Regions from separate parts of the Homo sapiens genome. Here all the other regions are reported to be linked to region 1. Evidence: microRNA targets listed by miRTarBase, many of them from high-throughput screens and not tested one by one. Region 1 holds a microRNA gene; each other region holds the end of a gene's coding sequence.

Region 1 (7,118 bases):
TCTTGGTTCAAGCAATTCTCATGCCTCAGCCTCCCAAGTAGCTAGGACTACAGGTATACTACCATGCCCAGCTAGTTTTGGTATTAGTATAGACGGGGTTTCACCATGTTGGCCAGGCTGCTCTTGAATTCCTAGCCTCAAGTGATCCGCCTGCCTCGGCTTCCCAAACTGCTGGGATTACAGGCATGAGCCACTACGCCCAGCTAATAACAGTACTTTAATACTAAATGCCAAGCTTCAAAAGATACAGCCTTGTGGTGGTATGGCCTCTCTAAATGAGTTAAATTTATAGAAGTAGACTTCAATGCAAAAAAAATCTGGAAAAATAACACATTCTCAAATAAGGCTCATTTTTCACAAGACACTACAGTAAAAGTTTCCAGTGAGTGTCACCAAACAAGCATACTACTTACATCAAATAAGTTGTCTTGTTCAACTGACTGCTGGAAAGCTTTCTCTGGTTTGTGGATCTTTCTTGTACCTCCTCGGGGGAAGCTTTCTTCCAGGTTTGCCATGTTTGGGTCTCCTAAAAACAATGCAAAGGATAATGGTGACATGTTGTCTTGGTAGCAGATTTCAGAAAGGTGTTATCAACGGGCAAGAGACAGAACGTTCCAGCAATATGCTAGACAACATTCAGGACTACAACATAGATGGTTTAGATGTCAGGCCCGGAATAATCCATACTTCATCTTTCCAAAGGTCTCTGCTTCAAAACCACAAGTCCACCCACCTTCTTCCAGAAAAAGAAGTTATAGATTCAATGTAGCACATACTCACTAAGAAGCTACAGTTAAGTCAGAGATACACTGTAGCTCTACAGATGAATATATAATCCTCTGCCTTCAAAGAACATGCACACTTTTTGGAAGATAAAACAATTATGCAAGTAACTTAAAATGCAAATCAGATTATAAATGATCACAAAGATGTAGGAAGGGATAAGGCAATGTAGGAAGGGATAAGTAAAGGAGGCAAGCTTCATAAAGAAGATCTTTTTTAGCTTAAGGGTAAAAGATGAACAGAAGCTTGACAGGTAGAAAGGGAATGTGAGAAAAGACATGGATGGGAAAAGCCTATTATTTCAATAAACACCAGCAATTTCCCTATCAAACAACTGCTCAAAGGCTTGCTGTTGTCTCTGAGGAATTATTCAACTAGACCACTGGGAGATTAAAGCATAAAAATTGAAGTTAAATTTTAAAGAAGGCCGGGCACCATGGCTCACACCTGTAATGCCAGCACTTCGGGAGCCCGAGGCGCGTGGATCATCTGAGGTCAGGAGTTCGAGACCAGCATAGTCAACATGGCGAAACCCCGTCTCTACCAAAAACGCAAAAATTAGCCGGGCGTGGTGGCCTGCGCCTAGTCCCAGCTACTAGGCAGGCTGAAGCGTGAGAATTGCTTGAGGCCGGGAGGCGGAGGTTGCAGTGAGCTGAGATCATGCCGCCGCACTCCAACCTGGGAGACAAAGTGAGACTCTGTCTCAAAAAAATTAAAGGAGAAGTTGGGCTTTTTTGTGGAAGACCTTGAATTAGATATGGGTAGTTTGCTTTGGCAAGTCAGAGACTTAAGCAGGGAAAGCGAGAGAACAGTAAGCAAGAAAAATATACTGCAGGCTATAGATTGGACATGAAGAGAGACAGTATTGAAGGCAAGTAAATTCGGTAGAAGGATTCAAATGCACTGTTTCCTGTTATCTCAGTGACAGAAAAAAAAAAAAAAAAAAAGGATTCAAATGCAGTACAGCAGAGAAACCATGAGAACCAGAACTGGGTATAAGTGAAAACAGAAGACAGGAGAGGTTAGTTCTGACAGACACTTGGTAATAAGACTCTACAAGGGCTTTAGACTAAAGAAGTGATGACCGGGTGGGGCCAAGGATATGGAATCAGGGATGGGTATATGATTCATAGAAACAGGAAAGTTTGGGGGGTCTAGTTTGCTGATAATTTCACCCTTAATTTCCTTTCAAGCAAGGGGAAACTGAGGCTCTGAAAAGTAAGGCGATCCAGGGGCACAGAAGATACTTAGGCTACTTTCCGAACACAAAGCCTGGGGTTACAGGGGCTGCTACAACAGAGCCGGCTTCGAAGCGGGGCTAAGGTGGCCGAACCACACTCATCTAGCGTGTGCCTGGCAGGGAACCAGGCCTGGGACAGACCTGACAGCCATGAGGTTTCCTCCTTTTTCGCCTCTGCCTTTACTCACCAGCGCCACGGCGTCTGCACCCAGCTACCACTAACCTCGCGCCGCGGTACTCACACACGCGGAGACCAGGATACCCACAGTCCAGTGCAATTCTTCCGGAAGTGTGGGCGGGCTCAACACCCTACTTCCGTTGCTGTGTTGCGGAGGTGACCTAGAGACAGGAATCGGAAGGGCGGGATTTGGAGCCATAGCCAATCGTCGCATTAGGCCGAATCGCGGGGGCCGGCTAAACGCGTGCGGGGGAGGTGGCTTCTTCCGGCCGGGCCGAGAGGTGGTTACATTCGTTGAAGGACACCAGCTGCGGAATTTGCGGCTTTGGCAGGTGGGTGAAGAGGGGAGTCCGGGCTTGGACCTGGCGCCTGCACGTTGCAGGACCGCCCGCCGTTTCTGGCCGAGGAGCAACTCGAGTTCTTAGCTTTGGAGGAGAGAAACGGTGGGGAATGGGAAAGGAGCTAGAAAAAACGAGGGGCGCAAGGGGGCGGCCAGCGGGTGAGAAGCCTCGAGGTGAGGCGGATAGGTGCGCCCAAGGGCTCCCACAGTTTCCGAAGACCCTTAGATTGCATTCGCCAGTGGAGAAAAATGAGGCCCTCCGCGAAGCGTCCCTCGAGGTCACCCAGTGACGTAATATTGGACGAGGACTAGGGCTTCTGATCCCCATCACCGGCCGAATTAACCTCTTTTCTTCTGTATGTCCATAGCTGTTTGTTCCCACCGAGCTGTGCTTTAGGAAGCTGGCCAGCCGGGCCTCCTTTAGGTGCGCTGCAGCCTTTTTCAAAGCGAGTGAATGTGGCCCGGCCCCTACAGTTCGCCAGGCCCGCTGTAAAAGGGTTAGATTTCAGTCTATAGACGATCAGTGGGAAGGCCTTTCCTAGGAGGTAACCAGAACAGAGAGCTGTAAACTCCGTGAATGCAAGAGGCTGCTTCTGTTACCTGAGTGGTTCTCACTCATCTTTGCCTTCCTTACCTCGTGATCTCACCATTCCAGGTAGGTGTTAAGTTAGAAAGGAAAATAGCAATATCGAGGAACAGAGAAAGTAACAAGAGCTACTGGTCACTTTGGACCTTTAATAAAGTGCCCATCTCACAGGTGGAGAGAGGCACGGAAGGATTAGTTACATTTAAGAGCAGTTAGTGGCCGGGCGCGGTGGCTCACGCCTGTAATCCCAGCACTTTGGGAGGCCGAGGCGGGTAGATCACCTGAGGTCCAGAGTTCGAGACCAGCCTGAGTAGTATGGTGAAACCCCGTCCCTACCAACAATACAAAAATTAGCCGGGCGTGGTGGCGCGCGCCTGTAGTTCCAGCTACTCGGGAGGCTGAGGCAGGAGAACCGCTTGACCCCGGGAAGCGGAGATTGCAGTGAGCTGAGATCGCGCCACTGCACTCCAGCCTGGACGACAGAGCGAGACCTTGTCTCAAGAAGGGCAGTTAGCAACTTAATTAAAACATACCACCGTTTAACAACATTAAATCACAACTAGGAGTCTTACAAAGGGCACTGTAAACACAAGGGTTCCTTTATCTTTGCCCTAAAGTAACCTGCACCGTGCTGAAGAGTGCAGAACCAAATTTTTCGACCTTACTCCATTATCTCACCAGCAACAATCCCGTTCCCCATTTGGCCCTCCATTTGAGCCTCTCAAGAGTCCTCCTCCTTTAAGACCCAGACTAACTTGAGTGATTGATTTCAGTTCTTGAACCATGCACTTCCCTGCAATCAGAATTAGTCTTCTGTGGGATATCACAAAACATCAGCCTTCCTCCCATATTGTGTGTAAATTAAAGGGAAATTTAAAGCGCTGTAGTATTGTTGGGCATATCCTCCTAAAAAGTTTAGTTAGATGTAATGTAGTGGAGGTTTTCGTTAATGGTCAAAGTGAAGCCCTTATTTTCTGTAGCGTTTCTCCTAAAAACCTACTTCAAACCCTAAGAAGTGAATCCAAAAATGTATCATGAAATGAATGGAGCTGGTGGGGGGGCGGGGGGCGGGGGGAAGTATGTCTTTAGTAAGTTTAGTAAAGTGGAACAGTTGATAGCTACATTATAAAGTTGCTTTTATCGCTTCTGTTGGCTAAGATCAAGTGTATAAAGTTATTTTTAATGGAGATTTTCCTACTTGGGCTAGACTGGCCAAGGTCTCTGAAGAGGCCTAAGGAAGTTTGGATTTCCTTCATTGCTCCAAGAACCTTCTTGAAACTTGAAAATTAAGGTCATTTTTCTCAAATTTTCATTGCCAATTCTTTACACAAGAATGCCTCTGAAAGCCTTTGAATGGGGGAGTTCCAGTTTCCATAGTAATGACTCCCTGACAGATATCTCCCTCTTCCATTTCATCAAGACCCAGCTGAGTCACTGTCACTGCCTACCAATCTCGACCGGACCTCGACCGGCTCGTCTGTGTTGCCAATCGACTCGGCGTGGCGTCGGTCGTGGTAGATAGGCGGTCATGCATACGAATTTTCAGCTCTTGTTCTGGTGACCTTTTGAATACGTCTTGTCTATAAAAGAAATTCATGCCTTTGTAAAATACACAGGTACTATAGATTAAGCTGCCTTTGCTATATATTCTTCCAGAGTTTTTTTTAATACACTTACTATTTTTCTATTTCATTTACTGCAGTATTTTTCAAACTTTAGCATGCTTTAGAATTATCTAGAAGCCTTATTAAAATAGATTCCTGGACCCAGAGTTTCTGATTCAATAGGTAGGGCCTAAGAATTTGCACTAACAAGTTTCCAGTGATGCTAATGCTGCTGGTCTAGGGACAAGACCCAGAACCATTGACGTGCTTTATAAAATCCAGAAATAAGATTTTTTCTTACAAAATTGAACGTTACTTGGGACATCTTCCCATGTCAGTACACAAAGATCTGTGCCTGTTGTGTGTCGTTTAATGGAAACCATCATTTTTTAATCAGTCTTCTATAGATGGACTTTTAAGATTTTCATAAACAGTATTTCATTGACCATCTTTGAACCACACAATGTGTTTCCACTTTGTAATATTTCAATAAGGGTAAATTCCTGGAGAAAAACACCAGCTAGATGAAAGGGTATACTCATTTTATAATTCGATAAGATACTGCCAACTTGCACTTTCTGAAGGTTGTACCAGTTTATTTATTTTTTATTTATTTATTTTTTTTTTTTTTGAGACGGCGTCTCGCTCTGTCGCCCAGGCTGGAGTGCAGTGGCGCAATCTAGGCTCACTGCAAGCTCCGCCTCCCAGGTTCATGCCATTCTCCTGCCTCAGCCTCCCGAGTAGCTGGGACTACAGGCGCCCACCACCACGCCCGGCTAATTTTTTGTATTTTTAGTAGAGACAGGGTTTCACCGTGTTAGCCAGGATGGTCTCGATCTCCTGACCTCGCATCCACCCGCCTTGGCCTCCCAAAGTGCTGGGATTACAGGCATGAGCCACCGTGCCAGGCTGGTTTTACCAGTTTATACTCCAAGCAACAGAGAGAGAATTCTTAGTTTTCTCACATACTTAATACTACTACTTACCATAATTTTATTTTTGCTTGTTTGATGATTAAATATTGATCTCATTTTACATTTCTTTGACTAATAGGTTTTATGTTTTTTTTGGTTTTTGGCTTTTTTTCTTAATATTTTCCCTTCCCTGAGATGACTTAAATATTTCCCCATGTTTTCTTCCAGGACTTTTTGGTTTCACTATTTACATTTAAATCTTTTATCTATTTTGGTGGTGGTGCAAGGATTCCAGCTTCCTTACTACCACCAGTAGCTATTATTAACTCCATTTAATAAATTATCCCTTCTCCCTTCTCCCATGGAGGTCCTAAATTACTTATAACAAGAAAAATTGTATAAGTAGGGGTTGTAATTGAGCTGTTTAGTTGATGGTCACCCGTTGAATGTTTGAAAAATACCAGCTCCAATTTTTGAGTAGCCTTAAAATGGATTAATTCAATGGACTGTGGTGTGATGGAGCCAGGAATGAAAATATTAAGCTGTATTGGGTCAGAGAATGAACTTAGCAGGGGCTATTGTGTGATTTGATGTATTCTGAGGTGTTCATGAAATAGCGATCAAGGTAAAATCCTACTTCCAAAAGCTTTTCTTTCAGGAAGGCTTTTTCCACCATCTTTGCTACTACTGTGTTGGGTGAGATATAGATAAAAATTTACAGTATTTATATGCAGTGACCTTGAGTTTTTAGACTAAAACAAGACAAAATTTATTTACTTTTAAATTACATCCAAACCAATTTAATGTTGCTTTCTTTCTTTTTTTAAAAGATTGAAATCATGGCAGGTCCAGAAAGTGATGCGCAATACCAGTTCACTGGTATTAAAAAATATTTCAACTCTTATACTCTCACAGGTAGAATGAACGTAAGTATTGATAACTTTAAGCAGTTATATTTTAAAATAATATAGATGGAACAACAAGTCTTGTTTACTTTTTTCTTTCTTTCTCAGTGTGTACTGGCCACATATGGAAGCATTGCATTGATTGTCTTATATTTCAAGTTAAGGTCCAAAAAAACTCCAGCTGTGAAAGCAACATAAATGGTAAGAAGTTGACATTTAAACCTTTATAATTTAGCCATTTTGATGTTAGGATTTTTCCCTAACATTTAGTATAAAAATAAACCATTGTCATTTTGCAAAATTTATAGCATACAAGAAAAAAAAATACAGAGGCCTAGTATAGTGGCTCATACCTGTAATCCCAGCACTTTGGCAGGCCAAGGCGGGCAGATGACTTGAGCCCAGGAGTTCAAGACCAGCCTGGGCAACATGATGAAACCCCATCTCTACCAAAAAACAAAAATTAGCCAGGGTGGGAGAACTGCTTAAGTCCAGGAGGCGAAGGTTGCAGTGAGCCGAGATCACGCCACTGCATTCCAGCTTGGGCGAAAGAGCAAAATCGTGTCTC
Region 2 (7,118 bases), not on the chromosome of region 1:
ACTTGGAGGATCCATAAATCAAGGTGGTATTTTCAGATTTGTGTGGCAAAAAATTTGTACAGAGAGGCTGGGAGCGGTGGCTCACACCTGTAATCCCAGCACTTTGGGAGGCCGAGGTGGGCAGAGCACGAAGAGATCGAGACCATCCTGGCTAACATGGTGAAACCCTGTCTCTACTAAAAATACAAAAAAAATTAGCCAGGCGTGGTGGTGGGCGCCTATAGTCCCAGCGACTTGGGAGGCTGAGGCAGGAGAATGGCAAGAACCCGAGAGGTGGAGCTTGAAGTGAGCTGAGATCGCGCCGCTGCACTCCAGCCTGGGCGACAGAGCGAGACTCTGTCTAAAAAAAAAAAAAAAAAAAAAAATATATATATATATATATATACACACACACACACACACACAGAGAAATGACAGATGCAAAGCATGTGTTCTATCAATATGTAGAAGGTCCCTTACATTTTAAGTTCAGTGAAATAATTAGAATGATACAAGATACTGAACTGAAATTGTACAATGTGGAAGCAAAAGCTCTGTTACTAATGTGCAAGTATATCAACAGGATTTTTAAAACACAACATGCTAATTATACCTTAAAATATATTTCTCCCAGTCTGGGCAACATGACGAAACCTCATCTCTACAAAAAATACAAAAATTAGCCAGGCATGGTGGCGTGAGCCTGTGATCCTGAGGCAGGAGAACATGGTCTGGAGGCAGGAAACCTAAGGCTGTTTCACGCTAACGTCCTTAAGCTAAATTGATGGGAAAACCCTAACTTTCCACACCTAAGTAACAAAAGGACCAGAGACTACTCCCTTTGCAAACCTCTACCTTTTCTGCCTGGCAGATGGGAAATTAAAAGTACCTCTGATTGGTTGCTTTTTGCAACCAATCAGATATTTGCGTAGGAGTGTGACTTTTGTAACTTTACTTCAGCCTCTGATTGGTTGACTGACTGCAGGCCACCATTTCATTTACATTAGGTCAGCACCAAGCAGCCAACGGGAAACCTCTAGTAGTCATTTGGACCCAAGAAGATTCTGTATCTGGGCCACTGCTTGGGCCTGTTCCCACACTGTGGAGTGTACTTTCATTTTCAATAAATTCCTGTTTTCATTCTTTTGATGCTGCATTCTTTCATTGCTTTGCTGGGTGTTTCTTCCAAGTCTTTGTTCAAAATGCCAAGAACCTAAACAACTTGCAGTCAAGACCCTCTACTGGTAACATATTCTGGTGAGCTAGCCAGGAGAGAAGGTAGGCCCAAAGTTTGGGATTTCTTTTTCTCCTTTCCCCTTTTACATACAGGGAAATCTTCCTCTCTCCATCTTTTCCTTTCCAACTGAGGACCCTCAGTGGACAGCACCTAAGCACAAAGACACTTGCAAGTTTCTGGCCAGGGCCATTCTCTGGTGAAACTGGAAGGTTTCCGTGTGGAAGTGCCTAACTGCCACCGCTTGGTTAAGGTGAGGAACCTGAGTCCTTTTCCTCGTTTTTGTTTTTCTGAGTCCTATTCCTTTTTTTTTTTTTCTGAGTTATTTTCCTTTTCTCCTTTTTCAGTCTTTCAGCGGCCGTTTCCTAGTAGCTCGTTGGTAATTGAGGGGAACTGACTGGGGCCACTCTCTGGTATCCTCTGAAGGCCAAGGAGTGAACAGGGATGGCTGCCCTGCCCAGAAAGGGAAAAGACTCATTTCTGTCCTTTTCAGTTATAATCCCTGATCCCTATGTGTGATGCAGTTAGCAGCAGCAGCTCGTCCAGGGCAAACTCACAGGTTTCAGGTGACTTATGCTGCTTTTATTTATGCTAAATTCTTCCCTTCTCCCACCCAACTGGCAAAGGACAGAAAACCCACCTAGCTATGCACAAAAGGTTACACAAGTCAGAGGGTCCGGGCATGTGGTCTGTGTGGTGCATGGTGGTGGAGGGAATTCATGAAAAGGAATTTATTATTGCCTAAGTTGAGAGCGTTAAAGGGTTGTTTTAAGTGAGATAGAAAAACTTTAAGTCAGGTCCTCAGTGATGGAGGGAACCATTCCAAAGTGGTGCCAGCACCCATCTAAGGTCAGAGATGTCTGACAGACTAAGTTGGGGCCCTAAAGGGGGGATGCCCCAGGTAAAATTTGGGTCACCTAATGAGCCCTCCACTTTTCAAAGTCCTCTTCTCTTTTCCAAACCACTATGGGCAACTCTCCACCTATTCCACCTGATTCCACACTTGGCTACATCCTCAACCATGGAAATCAATTTGACCCTGACACTCTAAAGATAAAATGTAAAATTTTTTTTGCACTATTGTCTGCCCCCATTATGAACTGCCCAGCCTGGAACAATGGGCAGTCTTGGTAGCCTTAATTATGACACCATCCTGCCATTAGACCTATTTTGCAAGAGGCAGGGCAAATGGTCAGAAATCCCATATGCACAGGATTTTATGACCTTATACCAAAACCTAGCAATCTGTCAAACTCCCAGAACCCACCCCCACCACCAAAGGAAAGTTCTAAGGTAGAATTAGATATTATAGATGATCCCCCCCACTCTTACTTTTTCTTTTTTGAGACAGAGTTTTGCTCTCATCGCCCAGGCTGGAGTGCAATGGCTTGATCTCCGCTCACTGCAACCTCCACCTCCCAGGTTCAAGCAATTCTCCTGCCTCAGCCTCCCAGGTGGCTGGGATTACAGGCACACACCACCATGCCCATCTAATTTTGTATTTTTAGTAGAGACGGGGTTTCTCCATGTTGGTCAGGCTGGTCTCGAACTCCCGACCTCAGGTGATCTGCCCAGCTCGGCCTCCCAAAGTGCTGGGATTACAGGCGTGAGCCACCGTGCCAAACCAGATGACCCCCTTTTACAAGAGCCACTTGTCTCTAAGGGTGAAGAGCGACCATCCCTATAGCCCCCTTACCAAGTGCTCCTGAGGCTAAAACCAGGAGCAAACACTGGGGACCCTACTAAGTCCCCCAAACACTCAGTGGGGAACACCATATTCTACTCTCCCTCCAGCCTTGCTACCCCGTAGGGAAGCAGCAGGAGCCGAATGGCCAGTCCTATTGCAGGTCCCCTTCTCTATAACTGATATACAGCAATGTAAGGAAAAGCTAGGAAGCTACTCTAAAAATCCTAGGAAATTTGCAGAAGGGTTCCAAAAGTTGACCTTATTACTATTGCACTCCAGCCTGGGCAACAGGGTGGTGACATGATAATAATGTCAATTTACAAAGATGATTTGAGAATCTTGTCTGTATGCACTTAAAACCAGCTGCAAAACATGTGAAGCAACAAGTGACAGAAGTGAAAAGAATGTACAAATCTAGGTGGAGCACAGATTTTTAGGTTAGTGAAACATACTCCGTATGTTTCCCATATCCCAAAGCAACACTGTATTTGTCAAAGGACACTCTGAACACAACAAGCTCAGTGACTTACATTGTAAATTTACATCATTCTCCACCATATTCCATGCTGCTTAACTCACACAGTACAGTGACCTTAATCTTCCAGAAAACATGGATATGAAGGAACCACACCTAATGAAGCAGGCCCTCTCACCTTACTGATTTATTCCCAGAGACCACAATGAAAGATGTGTAGGAAAGGCAAGACTTCATACTTTAGGATGAAGGTCACAAATAGTCAACTAGCCTTTTTAAGAAATGTCAAAGTGAATACAATTATTTTATATACTGAATTGGCCATTTCCACACACGCTCTTGATCCTTTGATGTACATATTACCTGGGGTTTTAACAAATTTTGTCTTGTGGTTATTTTACCGTATGTATCATTCCAGGTCAATCCTGGATGGAGAAGCAGACTTAGTTATCCATAGTATGATTTACCTAACATGGAATCTGTTGAGAAATTTTTTTTTTTTTTTTTTTTTTGAGACGGAGTCTTGCTCTGTCGCCCAGGCTGGAGTGCAGTGGTGCAATCTCGGCTCACTGCAAGCTCAGCCTCCCGGGTTCAAACAATTCTCATGCCTCAGCCTCCTAAGTAGCTGGGACTGCAGGCACGTGCCACCACGCCTGGCTAATTATTTGTATTTTTAGTAGAGACGGGGTTTCACCGTGTTAGCCAGGATGGTCTCGATTTCCTGACCTCGTGATCTGCCTGCCTCGGCCTCCCAAAGTGCTGGGATTACAGGCGTGAGCCACCGCATCTGGCTGAGAAATGGTTTAAAATTTTACCACGTTAATTACATTTGCAAGGTTTCTATCCAGTATGAATAATTTGGTAAAGCCTGAAGACACACTACTGATTAAAGGTCCTTCCATGTTAAGCACACTGATATGACTTTTTTCCTGTATAAATTCTCTCAAACTCCAAAAACATGAACATTTGATTTTTTTATTTTTTTGAGACAGAGTCTCACTCTTGTCACCCAGGCTGGAGTACAATGGCGCAATCTCGGCTTACAGCAACCTCCACATCCTGGATTCAAGTGATTCTTCTGCCTCAGCCTCCCAAGTAGCGGGATTACAGGTGCCCACCACTGCCCAGCTAATTTTTGTATTTTTTAGTAGAGATGGGGTTTCACCATGCTGGCCAGGCCGGTCTCAAACTCCTGACATCAGATGATCCACCCACCTCGGCCTCCCAAAGTGCTGGGATTACAGGTGTGAGCCACCATACCCAGCCCATTTGATTTTTAAAAAGGCTTACCACATTCGTTACATTTGTAAGACTGTTCTCCAGTATGAATACTCTGATGTTTCCATTTGGATGTTCGGGTAAAAAGTCTTAGCACACACATTACATTTGTCAAAGATGTATATTCTGAGGTCTAGTGAGTTCAGACACCTCGGGGAAGCCTCTAGCACATACATTTATACGATTTCTTTCCAATATAAACTCTCAAGTAGTGACTGAACTCTGGTGAAGCTTCTGCCACCCTCATTTCATTTGTAAAGCATATCTGCACTTTGAGTTATAGATCCACAAGTTTTGACCTTTAAGTAGTATTCTTGCCACATATACTACACTTCTGTGATTTCTCTCCAGGATGTATATTCTTATGCCTAGTGAACACTTGCTTAAAACTTAGCTATATTCTGGCCGGGCGCAGTGGCTCACGCCTGTAATCCCAGCACTTTGGGAGGCCGAGGCGGGTGGATCATGAGGTCAGGAGATCGAGACCATCCTGGCTAACAAGGTGAAACCCCGTCTCTACTAAAAATACAAAAAAAATTAGCCGGGCGCGGTGGCGAGCGCCTGTAGTCCCAGCTACTCGGGAGGCTGAGGCAGGAGAATGGCGTGAACCCAGGAAGCAGAGCTTGCAGTGAGCCGAGATTGCGCCACTGCAGTCCGCAGTCCCGCCTGGGCGACAGAGCGAGACTCCGTCTCCAAAAAAAAAAAAAAAAAAAAAAAAAAAAAAAAAAAACTTAGCTATATTCACTCCATGTGTAAATATATTAGGCCATAATTGCATGGCTAGACAGAAATACCTGAGGCTAGGTAATGTATAAAGAGGTTTAATTGACTCACAATTTTGCAGGCTTTATAGGAAACATGGCGCTGACGTCTGTTCACCCTCTCGGGAAACCTGAGGAAGGTTAAAATGATGGTGGGAGGTGAAGGGCATGTCACATGGCCAGAAGAACAAACAAGAGGGAGGTGCCATTCACTTTCGTGCGTGCGTGTGCGTGATGGAGTCTCACTCTGTCACCCAGGCTAGAGTGCAGTGGCGCGATCTCGGCTCACTGCAACCTCCGCCTCCAGGGTTCAAGCAATTCTCCTGACTCAGCCTCTCGAGTAGCTGGTACTACCAGTACCCGCCACGAAGCCCAGCTAATTTTTGTATTTTTGGCAGAAACAGGGTTTCACCATGTTGGCCAGGCTGCTCTTGAACTCCTGACCTCAAGTGATCCGCCCACCTCAGCCTCCCAAAGTGCTGGGATTACAGGCATGAGCCAGACCTCATGAGAACTATCACAAGGACAGCAACAAGGGGATGGTACTAAAACTTTCTTGAGAAAGCCACCCCCATCATCCAATCACCTCCCACTAGGCTCCACCTCCAATACTGGAGATTACTACAATTCCACATGAGACTTCAAAGGGAAAGGACAAATATACAAGCTATATGAGTAAGTATAAATTATTTGGGGATCCCAGAGGTTAGGACAACATCTAACGGCCTTTCCACATTGAGTTTAGTTGTAAGGTTCTCTCCAGCATGTTTTATCTGATGTTTAGTGAGGCCTGAGCGACTAATGTAAGATTTGCCACACTCATTACATTTATAAGGTTTTTCACTAGAATGAATTCGTTGGTGTTTAGTGAGGCAAGACCGCCGCCCAAACGCCTTGCCACATTCCATACATTTGTATGGCTTCTCTCCAGTATGGTTTCTCTGATGGTAAACCAAGTTTGACCTTTCGATAAAAGCTTTACCACATTCATTACATTTATAAGGTTTCTCTCCAGTATGCATCATCTGATGATTAAGCAGAATTGAACGTACTCTAAAGGCTTTGCCACACTCATTACATTTGTAAGGTTTCTCTCCAGTATGAATACTCCAATGACGTGCGAGGCCTGAGCGATAACGGAAGACCTTGCCACATTCATTACATTTGTAAGGTTTCTCTCCAGTATGAATTCTCCGATGCCTTGCCAGGGTTGTAGTGGAGTTAAAGACTTTCCCACATTCAATACATTTGTATGGCATCTCTCCAGTATGTCTTCTCTGATGGTACACCAGACTTGTTTTATGACTAAAAGTTCTACCACATTCACTACATTTGTGTGGTTTCTCCCCAGTAGGATTTCTGTGATATCTTGCAAGTTTTGAACTTTGGATAAAAGCCTCACCAAATTCATTACAGTGGTAAGGGTTCTCTCCAGTATGAATTACCAGATGTTTAGTGAGGCTTGAACGCTGAGTATAGGCTTTGCCACAATCATTACATTTATAAGGTTTCTCTCCGGTATGAATTTTCCGATGACGTGCTAGGCATGAGTAGTAACTGAAGACCTTGCCGCATTCGTTACACTGGAAAGGTTTCTCTCCGGTATGACTTCGCCTATGAATTGAAAGGTTTCCACTGTCAATGAAGACCTTGCCACACACATTACATTTGTAAGGTTTCTCTCCGGTATGCATTCTTTGATGA
Region 3 (7,118 bases), not on the chromosome of region 1:
ACCACCACAGAAGGGGAGACAGTTTGTCATCTGAACTTAACTGAATTGGTTGTCTGCTTACAATCAGTCTTCTCCAGGGATTTTAACAAGTTGCAGACTCTTGGGACTTGGTATTCAAAACATCCAGAATATGATCCAACATTACTAGATGCGCAAGCAACCAGGTAAGTATGACCTATTCACAAGGAAAAAGACAACCAACACATGTCATTCCAAAAATGACTCAGATCTTGGATCATCAGACAACAACTTAAAACAACTTTTATAACTGTGCTCTTAAGATGAAAACAAAGGGCCAGGCGCAGTGGCTCATGTCTGTAATCCCATCACCTTGGGAGGCCAAGGCGGGTGGACCACCTGAGGTTGAGCGTTCGAGACCAGTCTGGCCAACATGGTGAAACCCTGTCTCTACTAAAAATACACAAAAATTAGCCGGGCGTGGTGATGCACATCTGTAATCTCAGCTACTCGGGAGGTTGAGGCAGGAGAATTGCTTGAACCTGGGAGGCGGAGGTTGCAGTGTGCAAAGATCGCAGTCTGGGTGACAGAGTGAGACTCTGCCTAAAAAAAAAGAAAGAAAGAAGTTATTGATGGAGACCCAGAAGCTATGAAAATTAAGAATTCTAGAACTGAAAAAATTATATTTCTGAAGTTAAAAAATGTAATGGATGGACTTACTAGCAGAATGGAAATAACAAAAGAAAGAGTCAGTGAATTGAAGACAGATCAGTAGAAATTAACCAGAGGACACTGAGAAAATGGATTAAACAGAATGAATAGAACTTCAGGATCCTGGGAGACAACACCAGAAAATCACGTATTTTTTGACACTAGAGTCTCAGAGGGAAAAGAGAAATTGGTGCAGACACAAAAAAAGTTTTTAGAAATAACTGCTGAAAACTTCTTAAATTTGACAAACAATATAAATACACATTCAAGAAACTCAGCAAAATCCAAAGAAGATGCTCAGCATATCATAATCGAACTGCTGAAAACCAAAGATTGAAAGAATCCTGAAAGTAGCCAGAAAAAAACCCAACACATTCGGTATAGGGAAGAACAATTTGAAATACGGGTTATCTCAGACATATAATAAAAAATCATGTAGGCCAGGATGCAGTGGAACAATACCTTTAAAGCACTCATAGGAAAGAATCATCCATCCAAAATTCTATACCCAGTGCCAATATTCTTCAGGAATATGGACTTCCTGAAGAATCCTAAAATATGTCCACAAATTAATTGGAGATCCTCTCTTCAGAAGCTGGGGCCTAATTCCCCTCCCCTTGAGTGTGAGCCAGAATTAGGACTGACTTTTAATGAATAGACTATATCAGAAGTGACATTTCATGATTCTGAAATTTTAGTTATTATGGTGAACACCAGTCCCCTGACAACATGGTTCAAATTTGAGTTACCAGAATATATTAACTGTAATTGCATGAAGTTCAAACTTTCTGCTAGCTCCCCAGTCCACAAATCACTACATAATAACACAGGTACATCATGATCAGTGACCAATCATGCCTCTTCTTTCCAAAACCTACGGGTGATTGGTCACTGTGCATCTGTGTTCATTTCACGCACAGACAGCAAAGTGTGAATTGTGTGGCCTCCTTGTCTTCCAGTGATAAACCCACATGGCATTTTTACACAAATGGATATTCAAAAGAGAAAACTGACAAATAAAGATAGAAATGCAGCAAAGAAACTCAAACTGAAAACACTGAACGTGAATGCAAATCAAACATAAATGGGGTCACTGAAGAAACAGACTATGGGGATGCTGGCACTGCTGCCGAGAAGGTGAATTCCTCAAATAAATGAAGAAAGCGGTTGTGATGAAAAGGATGAAGATGTTCCAGAGGAAGGAACGTCAGCAAAAACCTTCACGTTAAAGGGACTTGGAGATATTTCATGACATTGAAAGCAAAAAGGATAAAATATTGGAAGCTGATCCAAACTTAGAAGGGGCATGACAAGTTTTTGAACACAGAAAAGGTGCTCCCTCTATATCATAAGGTACATGACTTTTGAAGAAGGCAAGCACTGTTTAAATGTCTGTTGATGGTTTTTTTAGGAAGACATCAAGCACTTTAATTCCCTGTGTTGCTAATGTTTTAAATTACAGTGTACAAAAATATTTACTTTATTGTTTCCTTATACATTTCTAACAGTACAAGATTATCAATGTTTTGACAATTTTCAAAAGACAGGAAAAAAATCACAATTTTACCCATTAATGATTATGAACAGCACATGGCAGTTTCAGGTTGGAAGGTCATTTTTACAGTTCTGAACTGCTGTGCAGTGAGGACTGTCTGTTTTATGTTGGGAGACTCTGTGTTCTGCTAAAATTCCCTGAAGAATGTTTCTTTTTTTTCTGTTTTGTCAGGCAATCAGCCTCGTTAGCCTTAGTCTGCAGGTCCTGCGTTGCCTTCTGTTTGGTGGTGGTGGTCCGAGTGTCAGTTCAGAGTGTGGCTGTGTTGCCTGGGCTCTGTCTCTTGTATGTGCAGCTCTGGGCTGAGCACGGAATTCAGCTCATGTACAGAATTAGAGAATCCTCTTTTCAGGTCTTTGCTCTTCAGGATTTCCCCCCAGACTCCCTGGCACCCAGGGGGCCCCTTTTCCTCATCCTCTGGCTTAGAAAGATGGGCTTTCTCTCTGATGATTACCTGCCTACACTGCCTGCTCATTTTGCCAAAAGGAACGCCCCTCAGGCAGAAAGCAGAGAGAGAAAAAAAGATGGATTATTTCCACATTCTTCAGACCATAGGGTCATTTTTTCCTGCTCCTCTGGCTGGAAAGACAGGTTTTCTCTCAGGGGAATTTTTTTGTTTGTTTTTGTTTTTGTTTTTTGAGACGGAGTTTTGCTCTTGCTGTCCAGGCTGGAGTGCAATGGCGCGATCTCGGCTCACTGCAACCTCCACCTCCCAGGTTCAAGCGATTCTCCTGCCTCAGCCTCCCGAGTAGCTGGAATTATAGGCATGCACCACCACGCCCAGCTAATTTTGTGTTTTTAGTAGAGACAGGGTTTCTCCATGTTGGTCAGGCTGGTCTTGAACTCCTGACTTCAGGTGATCCACCCGTCTTGGCCTCCCAAAGTGCTGGGATGACAGGCGTGAGCCACCGTGTCCAGCCTGACTAGGGTCATCTTTAGGTCAGGACTGAGAGAGAAAAAGTTTAAAAAAGGAAAAAAGCAAGGGATTATAGCCACACTTTCTAGCTTGCCGGGCCCCCATTTACCAGAATGTTTTAAGAAAGTTCCAGACTGTTTTCCCATCAGCTGTGTATGAGGGTTCCAGTTCTTCCACATCCTTCTCAGCAAACAAGTTAACCATATTTGGCACAGGATTTCTAGACCTGTAGGTTACGGAAATGTCACAGTATGTTTTGAGGCCAGTAAGGAGTTCTGCTTTTTTTTTTTTTTCCTGAGACGGAGTTTCGCTCTTGTTGCCCAGGCTGGAGTGCAATGGTGCGATCTCGGCTCACCGCAACCTCCGCCTCCCAGGTTCAAGGGATTCTTCTGCCTCAGCCTCCCTAGTAGCTGGGATTACAGGCATGTGCCACCACGCCTAGCTGATTTTGTATTTTTAGTAGAGACAGGGTTTCTCCATGTTTGTCAGGCTGGTCTTGAACTCCCGACCTCAGGTGATCCACCCGCCTCGGCCTCCCAAAGTGCTGGGATTACAGGAATGAGCCACTGCACCCGGCCAGTTCTGCATTTCTTAAGAGAATCTTTGTGAGAAGATGTAGATATTGGCTTCATAATAATAAAGTGAATTTGTGGTATTAAATAAATGGAAAAAAAGACAAACGGTACAAATTAAAAGTTCTTGAGATGTTTGGGCTGACCATGAAGGGATCCATTATCTGAAGAGTGGCTTAAGATTTAGAAGGCATAGCTCTACAGTCTCTTTGTCTTCTAAGGGCAGGGCATCTTCTATCTTCTAGGACAGGGTACAGTAAGTCTTACCAAACATGTAAGACATGTTATTTGGGGATATTCAGCATTCCTTTTCCCTTCCTAAAGGTACTCAGGTTTCTTTCTCAGAAATTGTATATATTCATCCCTGAAAGGTCTGAGAAAAAATAAAAAAAAATTGTGTATAGTTTTGGTGAGATCGTCAATCCAGGAACCTGTTTCCCCATATTAAAGTCAAAGGAACTATACTGTTTTCACTGCCAGGCTGGGGACTCTTAGTACCTAAGTTTGGTCCATTCTACTCTTTTTCATGACTTTGAATCTTGAGCAAATGACTACAGTAAGAGTGGGGTTCATTCATGTCATCAACAGCATCCCAGCTGTATTGTTAAAAGTACCTGTCATTCTTAGTTCCCACCCAGTCTTAATCCTGGTTCTCCAACTTTCATAAAAATCGTTGTTTTTTTTTTTTTTTTTTTTTTTTGAGACAAGGCCTCACTCTGTTGCCCAGGCTGGAGTGCAAGTGGTGTAATCTGGGCTCACTCCAACCTCCACCACCTTGGCTCAAGTAGTCTTCCCACCTCAGCCTCCTGAGAAGATGGGACTACAGGTGCACACCTCACCTGGCTAATTTTTGGATTTTTTGTAGACAATGGGTTTCATCATGTTGCCTCAAGAAAAATAACATCATGGTAATACTAAGTCTTTTATCAGTGACATGTAACTGATTTTAAAATATTATATAGTGCTTCCTAGTTTAACCAAACTGGAGGCATGTTTTATATGATGGGCTGATGTCTCATGAATAACTGTGCCAAAATCCTCACTTCTGAGTGCACTGATGCAGTAGATGGATGTCTCAGATCCCTCAGCTCCCAGATTGGGCCAACTCTCCTTATACCACCACACCTGGGACCTGGGAGGAATGGGGAAGGGGACTTTATAGGGCAGAGCTTTCCCAGACTCTTGTTCCACCCTAAGGATAAAGTATTACAGTAACTTTCTTCCTGCCTTCCAGAGGCACTTTCATTCTTCCTGGAGCTCTCGTCAACCCTGACCTCTTCCTTTGTCAGCAAGGTCAAACGCCTGAGCCACAAGTCTTAGCTGTTTCCAGAAGGGTGATTGTGTGCTCCCACCTATATCTGAGGTCCTAGACTCCTCAGAGGAAGTCAGCTTCATGTGATCTAGGTTACTCAAGCCTGGGGCTAGTGTTTTCATATTCTGGTATGAGAGACTTGCTTCCTCTGGAAAGATCTTTATGGTTTACACAAATGTAACAGACCACTTAACAATAGCTAGTCTCTAAAATGTACATCTTAAAATGGCTTTATACTTACGGGAATTCCTAATTAAAAAAAAAACTCACTTGATTTATATCACATTGTAAAATATAGTTTACTTCAAAAGATGATCCTGAAGATCCCATCACAGAGTGTTTAAGGGATGATTATAAACTTTTAGCCCTTAAGAGAGAATATATATACTCAACTGAGTACTGTCTTTCAAAGCAGTCCCTGTCAGTTTGTCCATTGATTCCATAGCAGCTCTCACTGCCCACCCTGCTTGAGAAGCCTCTTGGAGTTGCCTAGAGAGTCTATAGCACTCATCTGAAGGCCCTCCATGAGAACAACTCTTCTCTTCCACATAGATATTTTTGCATCAGCCCAAAGCTATTTGGACACAAGTTTGGTGAACACGGTAAGAAAAAAACAAACCAAGCAACAAAAACAAAAAGCAGGCAGTGCTGTGTTAGACTGAAAGTAAAAGATAAAAACTCTAAGAACCTATGAAGCGCCAGGGCAGTGCTGGTTGCTTTCACCCATATGGTCTCCTTTGGTGTTCTGCTGGTGCTTATGAAGCAGTATCCCTACTGACAATGACCCTAGCTTAAGAGGGCTGAGAACTGCTGAAAGTGAAGCTGTTTATAAATGGTACAGTCAGGACCGACAGACACATGGGTGTGGTATGACTGCAAAGTACCTGTGGAATTCAGATGGGATTACCATCCCCACTATAAAGGGCAATATGATCTGTTGCAGGAGGGTTTATAGGGTACTTAGTTACACAGGTCACACTGATCCCCTTTTCCTCTTTTTTTCTATGCAAGTATCTATTTGTCTATATGTCTGTCTACCTTGGTAGGTTGGGCTCCTTGAAGAAGGGTTATGTTTTCTTCATCTCCATATCCCCAGTAGCTGGCCAATGCCCAGTATACACCAGGGGCTCAGTCGCTGTTTGTCTTATTTTCTTGTTGACTCTACTCTGACTTAGGACATATCACTTTCCTCTCTTGACCTTCACATTCAGATGTGTTAATAAAAGTGGATAAAGACCACTCTAGCTTTAAAACACCCTCCAATATAGAGAGAACTCTGAAACCAGAAGCAGAAGCTGAGGAATGGTGAATAGAGCATTTTCCCTCACACGATGGGTATCAGGGTGGTTTCTTGTCCTTTCAATGCCTCTGCAGAACTTGACCCTAGTTTTTCAAATTGGACTCAAGAATGATCTTAGTGTTGGTGGTTTTGTGGTTTTCTTTGAGACTTTGTTATTGACAGAACAGCTTCTGGAAATCTGAAAAGAAAAAAAAAAAGGTAGTTTATATATTAGTTTGGAATATGAAATGTATTTTGTCATGGTCTCCAGAGTCCGAATATTGATCTCTGTGGAGCTCTCCTACCCTCTGCTACTGCTGATAACTCATAGTACTGGAGAGATAGCAGAGCCTGAAGACCAAAAAACTCAACTGCCGATACACGGCTGCAGTGTGGTCAGTTACTGATCTACCATTTATGAAGCAGGCCTACAGATGTGTGTGTTCTTCTGGGTAATTTAAATTGACAATTAATTAACAGGGCTGGTGCTAGGTAAACATTATAGGTTAGAATCCCTAGTGTGGATTAATTTGCTCTCTTCCATGATCGCAGACTCCCTGCTTAGCTCCAGTCTGCTGGTCTCCCAACATCTGCTAATGATTACATGGGCAGCATTAAGGTCTCTTATTACCTTGTTTGAAAAACTGGAAACTCATCTGTTATTGTTGGTGGTTAGATACCTCACCTAAGTAAAATATTAATTAATGATATTAGGCTGGGCGCGGTAGCTCATGCCTGTAATCCCTGCACTTTGGGAGGCAGAGGCAAGTGGATCACTTGAAGTCAGGAGTTCGAGACTGGCCTGGCCAACATGGTGA
Region 4 (7,118 bases), not on the chromosome of region 1:
TACCACCCCGAGGAGACCAGCCCGGGCAAGCAGTTCCACCAGGGCCAGGTGAGCCTGCGGCCCGGCTGCGGCCCCCAGTCCTAGGCGGTGTAGGGCAGACCTGAGGGCGAGGCGTTCTGGGTGCTGGAGCATCAGCAGCCCTGCCCAGTGGGTCAGCCCTGTCCTGGGGCCTGGGGTCGGGTGCAGCAGCCCCCGGGCTCACCCAAGCCCCTCCTCTCTCCCCCACACAGCACTGGGACCAGAAGTCCAGCCGCAGCCTCCCGGCGGCCCTGCGGGTCTCCAGCCAGAGGAAGGACTTCATGGAGGTAGGTGGTGGTGGTGGTGGTGGTGGGCGGGTTGGGGATGGCTGCTTCCTTCCGGGCAGCTCAGACAGGGCCCGGCTCAGCATCTGCTGCTCTGTCCCCCATGGTCTCCCTCAGCCTCTGACCTCCTGTCCCTGCCACTCTCAGTGCCTGGCTCCTGTTCTCTGTCTCTCTGGTCTGTGCGTCTGTCTCTGGGTCTTCTCTGCTCTCCCAGTGTCTGTCTCTGAGTCTCTGGCCATTCTTGCCCTCTGACTCTCTCTGGGTCTCTCCCAACCTCTATCTTTCAGTCTCTGTGTCTCTCTGGGTCTCTCTCGATCTCGGTCTCTGTCTCTCTGCGTCTTTGGATCTCTTGGTCTGTCTATCCTTGTCTCTCATTTGCTCTCCATCTCTCGGTCTCTGTCTCTCTTTTGTTGGTCTGTCTCTTACTCAGCCTCTGTCTCTGACTTGGTCTCTGTCTCAGTCCCTGGGGCTCCCTCTGCTTCTGTCTCTGTCCCTGTGGCTCCCTGGGGCTCCCTCGGCCTCTGTGCCCCCCACCTGCCATCCTGATATCCCCGCGTGCCCGCAGCGCGCGCTATACCAGTCCTCGCATGTGGACGAAAATGACGTGCAGACGGTGTCGCACAAGTGCCTGGTGGTGGGCCTGGAGCAGTATGAGCAGATGCTGAAGACCAAGAAGTACCAGGACAGCGAGGGCCTGTACTACCTCGCGGGCACCTACGAGCCCACCACGGGCATGATCTTCTCCACGGACGGCGTGCCCGTGCTCTGCTGAGCCCGCCGGGCCCTGCGGGCCACCTGTGCCCCGAGGGCGGCCAGGGACCCATCTCCATCACTGCCATGGCGCGGAGACCACGTGCGTTGTGTGCATGCGAGCGCTCCTGCAGGCGTGTGCATGGGGCCAGGTGTGCACGTGGATGCCCGGGTGAGTGTGTGTGCATGCACGTGTGTGCACGCATGTGCACATGCCTCCAGCCCCACCTTCCAACCCCTCAGTGCCCCCAGGACAGGGGCCCCTCTTAGCTATCAGGGTATGGCCGGACCGGCCCTTCCTGCCCAGCACGTTGCAAGCACTTGGCCAGGCCGGCCCTCCAGGCTGCTGCTGCGTGGGGGCCCGGGTGCCCCCAGGTCCATGCAGACTGGGGATTCGGTGGGGAGGGGCGCTTCTAAGGAACCAAACTGACGCTCACTCTGGGCTTCCCAAGCACCCTTAGCATGGAGCCCACCCCAAGGCCTCCCACCGTGCATGGGACAGGGCAGCCCGATGCCAGCTGGCCTACCTGACTGTGCCAGGGGCCCTGCCCCCACCCTCTCAGGATGGCCTAGACTTGGGGAACAGAGCCGGGTGGGGTTGCAGCCCGGAGTGTCTGTCAAAGGCACCAGGTGGAGAGGGCCCGGCACAGGCCCACCCTGGTCCAAACCCTCACACTACAGAAAACCCCAATGGTGCTGAAACTGTCGCCCGGCCACGCCTGGCCCCTCCCCACCCAGGAGGGAGGTGGCACTTCTTAACCTGTACAGTTTTATTGTACCAAGAGACTCGCCCCGCCCCTGTATCATAAGCCTTTAAATGGAGTCAACTTTTTAATTATATATATAAAGATAAATATATATAAATATATATATAAACTTTTTAAAACTGTGAAAAATAGCTATGAAATTATAAAAAAAAACATTCTGACGTGCAGAATATTATTTTTTATTTCCTGTTAGATTATAGTGTCTAGCACCGGCTTCACCGGCCTCCCAGTCCCCAGCACACCCCCCGCCCACCCCACCAAGTGTACTGTACTCACCCCCCAGGATAGAGAAGTGTTTGTTAGGGAGAGAAGAGGGAGAGGCAGGAGCCGGCCCAAGCCCAGGGTCCCTGCTTGGGCCCCAGAAAGCACTTAACCAGGCCCCAAGCCTTCAAGGGAAACCAAGGCCTCAACCAGACAATCTTGAGGGAAGGAAAAGCCAGACTTTGGGTTTGTTTTTTGGGGGAATTATTGGTTTTTTTTTTTATGTTTCTTTTGGAATTTTGTTTGTTGGCAAATTCTGTGTGATCTTTTTTCATAAAAAAAAAGAAAAGATTTAATTGGAAAAATAAAATTGTCTGGAGTGGTTTATTTCAGGGGCTGGAGTAGGGGTGGTGTCTGGGGGCATTCTGCCATATCAGGGCACCAAGAAGCAGGATTCGACTGGAAGAAGTTGGGTGCCACGCGTGCAGGGGCGGTGACCCCATGCAGCCATCTAAATGAGCTCATCGGCTGGGCACAGTGGCTCACGCCTGTAATGCCAGCACTTTGGGAGGCCAAGGCAGGCGGATCACTTGAAGTCAGGAGTTCGAGACCAGCCTGGCCAATATGGTGAAACCCCATCTCTACTAAAAATACAAAAAAAAATTAGCCAGGTGTGGTAGAGCGTGCCTGTAATCCCAGCACTTTAGGAGGCCGAGGCGGGAGGATCACTTCAGGCCAGGAGTTTCAGACCAGCCTGAGCAATGTGGTGAAACCCCGTCTCTACTAAAAATACAAAAATTAGCCGGGTGTGGTGGCCCACACCTGTAATCCCAGCTACTCGGGAGGCTGAGGTGGGAAAATCACAGGGACCCGGCGGGTGGAGGTTGCAGTGAGTTGAGATCGCACCACTGCACTCTGGCCTGGGGGTGACAGAGATTGTCTCAAAAAAAAAAAAAAAAAAAAAAAAAGAAATTGAACAAATTTACATGAGAAAAAATTAAAAGTTAAGTTGGATGGGCACGGTGGCTCACGCCTGTAATCCCAGCACTTTGGGAGGCCAAGGGAGGCGGATCACTTGAGGTCAGGAGTTCAAGACCAGCCTGGCCAATATGGTGAAACCCCATCTCTACTAAAAATACAAAAAAATTAGCCGGGTGTGGTGGAGCGTGCCTGTAATCCCAGCTACTTGGGAGGCTGAGGCAGGAGAATCGCTTGAACCCACGGCAAAGGTTACAGTGAGCTGAGATCGTGCCACTGCCCTCCAGCTGGGGTGACATAACGAGATTCCATCTCAAAAAACCAGTGCCAGGCATGGTGGCTCATGCCTGTAATCCCAGCACTTTGGGAGGCTGAGGCAGGTGGATCACCTGAGGTCGGGAGTTCAAGACCAGCCTGACCAACATGGAGAAACCTCGTCTCTACTAAAAGCACAAAATTAGCCGGGCATGGTGGCACATGCCTGTAATCCCAGCTACTCGGGAGGCTGAGGCAGGAGAATCGCTTGAACCCGGCAGGCAGAGGTTGCAGTGAGCTGAAATCGAGCCATTGCACTCCAGCCTGGGCAACAAAAGCGAAACTCCTCCAAAAAAAAAAAAAAAAAAAGCAAAGCTGCACATTTCCAGCCATGCCTACCACAAAATGATACTAGAAGAAAATGATACTAATGCTAAGAGTGGCCCCAAGCCCTCACCTAGATGGGGGTGGACGGCATCTCTGCACTGGGGCCTAGGGAAGCTATAGGTGGGGGTCTGGCTGCCCAGTGACTGACCTGGTTAGTGTGGGTGGCCTGCAGAGGACATTCGGGGCTTTGCAAAGAGGGTAACCCATGGAGGGCAGCCAGCCGGCCTCGGGCAAGGGAAGGGCCCGGCATGGGCTCTGGGAAACACTCTGGTGTCACCTGGCGCAGTCTTGGCCCAAGTGGCCGCCCACCTGGGCCCCAGGGAGGATGCCTGCCAGAGCATAGGTGGCCCTCGTGCCCTCCTTTACGGGACCCACATCAAAACCTGGACCAGCCCCATTCCTTGGGGAAGCTAAGGACAGAACAGGCCAGGCGCAGTGACTCATACCTGTAATCCTGGCACTTTGGGAGGCCAAGGCAGGGGGAACACTTGAGGCCCAGACTTTGAGACCAGTCTGGGCAACAGCAAGACCCCATCTCTACACAAAATAAAAGAATCTGGCCAGACGTGGTGGCACGCGCCTGTATTCACAGCTATTTGGGAGGCTGAGGTGGGAGGATCACTGGAGCCCAGGAGGTGGAGGCTGCAGTGAGCTATGATGGCACCACTGCACTCCAGCCTCAGTGACAGAGCGAGAGCCTGTCTTGTAAAGAAAGAAAAAACAAAAATGAGGCACAGGACGGGTGCAGTGGCTCACACCTGTAATCCCAACACTTTGGGAGGATGAGACAGATGGATCACTTGAGATCAGGAGTTCGAGACCAGCATGGCCAACATGGTGAAACCCGGTCTCCACAAGACAAATTAGCCAGGTGTGGTGGTGCGTACCTGTAATCCCAGCTACTTGAGAGGCTGAGGCAGGAGAATCGCTTGAACCTGGAAGGCAGAGATTGCAGTGAGCCAAGATCGTGCCACTGCACTCCAGCCTGGGTGACAAGAGCAAGACTCAGTCTCAAAAAAAAAATAAAAAAAGAAAGAAATGAGGCACAGAACAGTGCAGGATTTTGTCCAAATTGCACAAATCAGCAAAAGGGATGAGGCTCGAAGCCAGGAGGCTCTGACTCCTAGGATGCAGTGCAGTCCCTGAGGGGCAGGGGCCAAGCCCCGCCCACTTTGTTTCCCCTTCAAATGGGCTGCATGTGGCCATCCTCCCTGATCCTCACGAAGGGGTGGGGGGGGCGGGCGGTCAAGGTGAGCGACAAACCCTAAGTGCTCCCAGCTCTCACCCCACTACCCAGCGCTGCCCACAAACCAAGCCTACCCAGTGTGAGGACACCCTCCTGCTCCCTGATCCACCCGGCCCACCTCACAGATGGGAAGACTGAGGACCGGCTTATGCGGGGCAGCCCGAGTTCCACCGGTATCCCGAGATGGCAGTCCCAGCCCCCGTCCACGCACAAACTCTGCTTGCAGGCGGCGGTGCAGCGGTCTGCCTTCATCTTTTAATGGCCGGTGCGGTACAGTTAGTGGACAGACGGGGGATGGGACACAGCAGGGGTGAAACAGGGCAGTCACAGCCGGGGCCGGGGATCTGGAAGCGGGGGCGGTCCTCCCCCTGGAAACACCGTCTCTGGAAGGACACCCTTAGGATCCCCTGACCTCAGGGTGCCACCCACACGGGCCTGGTGTTCTGGGAGGCCCGGGCTGGACTGACCCCCAGCCCCTCCCTACGTTCCAGGGACCCTTGGGTCTGTCGAGTCCCTTGCTGGATGAGGGTCAAGACCTAGGTCAAGCTGACTTCAGCCAGGGTGTGGGGGCCCGGCTTCGTAGCCCCCAGACTTACCTCCCCTCTTCTATCCCGGGCCAGGAAGGCAATGGGAGGGCTCCCTAGTCAGGCACAGCCCCCTGACCTGTGGCATCGTGTGGGTGTGTGGGGAGGTCCTGACGTGCCCAGCTGGCATCACTGCTGTGGTTTCCCAGAGGCTGATGCAGACCGCAGGCGGGTCCATTCGGACCCAGGGCTCCGACTCCTTCATGGCTAACGCGTTATGTTTGGGAGAAGCAGTCTCTAAGAATGAGGACAGAAGGGGAAGCCCTGAGGGTGACAAGGTGGGGGGCTGCCCCTCTCCTCTCAGGGCTCCAGAGTTCATGAGGAGGGGTCCCTGGTGGAGGCTGGGCCAGGCGGTGCCCCGATCAGTGCCGGTGGGTGATGAGGGCCGGGGTGCAGTCACTGGGCGCGCACACTCTGGCGGGTGTCTGCTGTCCTGGGTGGGGACACGGTGCGTGTGACCCTGCAGAGTGCTGGCTGGGCTGGAGCCGGGGCCGCTGGACACAGATGGAAGGTAGACGCAGGTATGAGACCAAACGCAGAACACAGTGCTGGCCAGAGCCCCGGGTCGCAGAAACGTGTTCCGGTCCTCGGAGGACTTTGCAGAACTTCAGTCCAGGGTGGGGCATGGCTGGACCCTGAGGGAGTGGGGCTGCTGGCACAGGGGGAGGCTCAGGGCCCCGCAGGCACTGAGGTGGGGACAGGGGAGGGGCCCTCAGGCCTCGGGGCCCCTGGTCAGGCCCTCGGCGTCCCTGGCAGTGGGCGGGGCTGGCTCAGAGGCCTGCGAGGATGGAACCATTGGCGGTGGAGGCGTGCAGGCAGCTGCCGTGAGCGTCGCGGGTGAGGCTGTAGGTGCAGTAGGCCACGGCGGACCCCAGCGTCAGCCCTGACATGTAGGACACGGTCATGGTGTTCCCTGTGGACAACACCAGCCTGAGGGGAGCAGGGCCAGGGCGGCCACCTGGTGGCCACGGCTGCTCGGGTGTGAGGTGCGGTGACACCCGCCTGAACCGTGCCGCCCCTCCAGGACCCGCTGCCCCATCGCTCCTCCTGGGAGCACCCTCTCCGGATCCTGTCCTTCCTCATTCCTTCTTCCCGAGGCCATCTGCTATGCACTCCAGGCCTTGCCTGCCTTCTCTGAGTCCCCCAAGCCCCCATTTTTAAAATTTAAAGACAAGGTCTTGCTCTGTTGCCCAGACCGGAGTGCAGTGGTACAACCATAGCTTCCTGCAGCCTTGACCTCCTGGGCTCACGCGATCCTCCCACTTCAGCCTCCCGAGTACCTGGGACCACAGGCATGCACCACCGTGCCTGGCTAACCTAAAAAAATTTTTTTGTAGAGACTCCGTCTTGCTATACTGCCCAGGCTGGTCCCAAGTGATAGTCCTACCTTGGCCTCCCAAAACACCGTCCTGAGCCAGTGAGCCTGGCCCTAACCCTCCCCATTTTAATCTCCAGTCTCAGCCAGGTATGGTGGCTGACACCTATAATCCCAGCACTTTGGGAGGCTGAGGCAGGCAGATCACCTGAGGTTAGGAGTTCGAGACCAGCCTGGCCAAGATGGTGAAATCTCACCTCTACTAAAAATACAAACATTCGCCAGGTATGGTGGGGGGCATCCATAATCCCAGCTACTCAGGAGGCTGAGGCA

What was found. Region 1 holds the annotated microRNA hsa-miR-1307-3p (ACUCGGCGUGGCGUCGGUCGUG, at 4,620-4,641, shown strand). A microRNA usually pairs through its seed, bases 2 to 8, with sites in the 3' UTR of a target mRNA and lowers its output. Matches are read on the target gene's strand: a 7mer-m8 pairs with bases 2 to 8, a 7mer-A1 pairs with bases 2 to 7 and ends in A, and an 8mer does both.
Region 2: the mRNA of ZNF841 is a reported target of hsa-miR-1307-3p. Seed matches in the 3' UTR shown: 7mer-A1 at 5,693-5,699.
Region 3: the mRNA of FAM120AOS is a reported target of hsa-miR-1307-3p. Seed matches in the 3' UTR shown: 7mer-A1 at 3,482-3,488 and 7mer-A1 at 2,908-2,914.
Region 4: the mRNA of TNRC18 is a reported target of hsa-miR-1307-3p. The part of its 3' UTR that is shown has no 7-base or 8-base seed match.

The regions. Positions count from the first base shown.
Region 1 is chr10:103,391,824-103,398,941 of GRCh38, reverse strand. It overlaps MIR1307 (microRNA 1307), which reads left to right and starts at 4,541; the gene lies at 4,541-4,689. It overlaps ATP5MK (ATP synthase membrane subunit k), which reads left to right and starts at 2,467. Exons shown (of 5, transcript NM_001206427.2): 1 at 2,467-2,533; 2 at 2,910-3,196; 3 at 6,476-6,571; 4 at 6,659-6,751. The coding sequence starts at 6,485. The coding sequence ends at 6,748. PDCD11 (programmed cell death 11) reads right to left here and starts at 2,316. Exons shown (of 36, transcript NM_014976.2): 1 at 2,212-2,316; 2 at 414-526. The coding sequence starts at 515. RefSeq lists enhancers at 830-1,330, 1,331-1,832, 2,490-2,739, 2,890-2,979, 2,372-3,204.
Region 2 is chr19:52,059,007-52,066,124 of GRCh38, forward strand. It overlaps ZNF841 (zinc finger protein 841), which reads right to left. Exons shown (of 7, transcript NM_001136499.2): 7 at 5,459-7,118. The coding sequence ends at 6,101. It also overlaps the pseudogene LOC100419835. Among named protein-coding and RNA genes, the nearest start is that of ZNF432, 14 kb to the left of the region's middle. RefSeq lists an enhancer at 6,008-7,118.
Region 3 is chr9:93,441,199-93,448,316 of GRCh38, forward strand. FAM120AOS (family with sequence similarity 120 member A opposite strand) reads right to left here. Exons shown (of 3, transcript NM_198841.4): 3 at 2,134-6,499. The coding sequence ends at 6,413. Among named protein-coding and RNA genes, the nearest start is that of FAM120A, 6.9 kb to the right of the region's middle.
Region 4 is chr7:5,302,062-5,309,179 of GRCh38, reverse strand. It overlaps TNRC18 (trinucleotide repeat containing 18), which reads left to right. Exons shown (of 30, transcript NM_001080495.3): 28 at 1-48; 29 at 231-305; 30 at 868-2,369. The coding sequence ends at 1,074. It overlaps SLC29A4 (solute carrier family 29 member 4), which reads right to left. Exons shown (of 11, transcript NM_153247.4): 11 at 2,268-6,383. The coding sequence ends at 6,241. Among named protein-coding and RNA genes, the nearest start is that of SLC29A4, 23 kb to the right of the region's middle.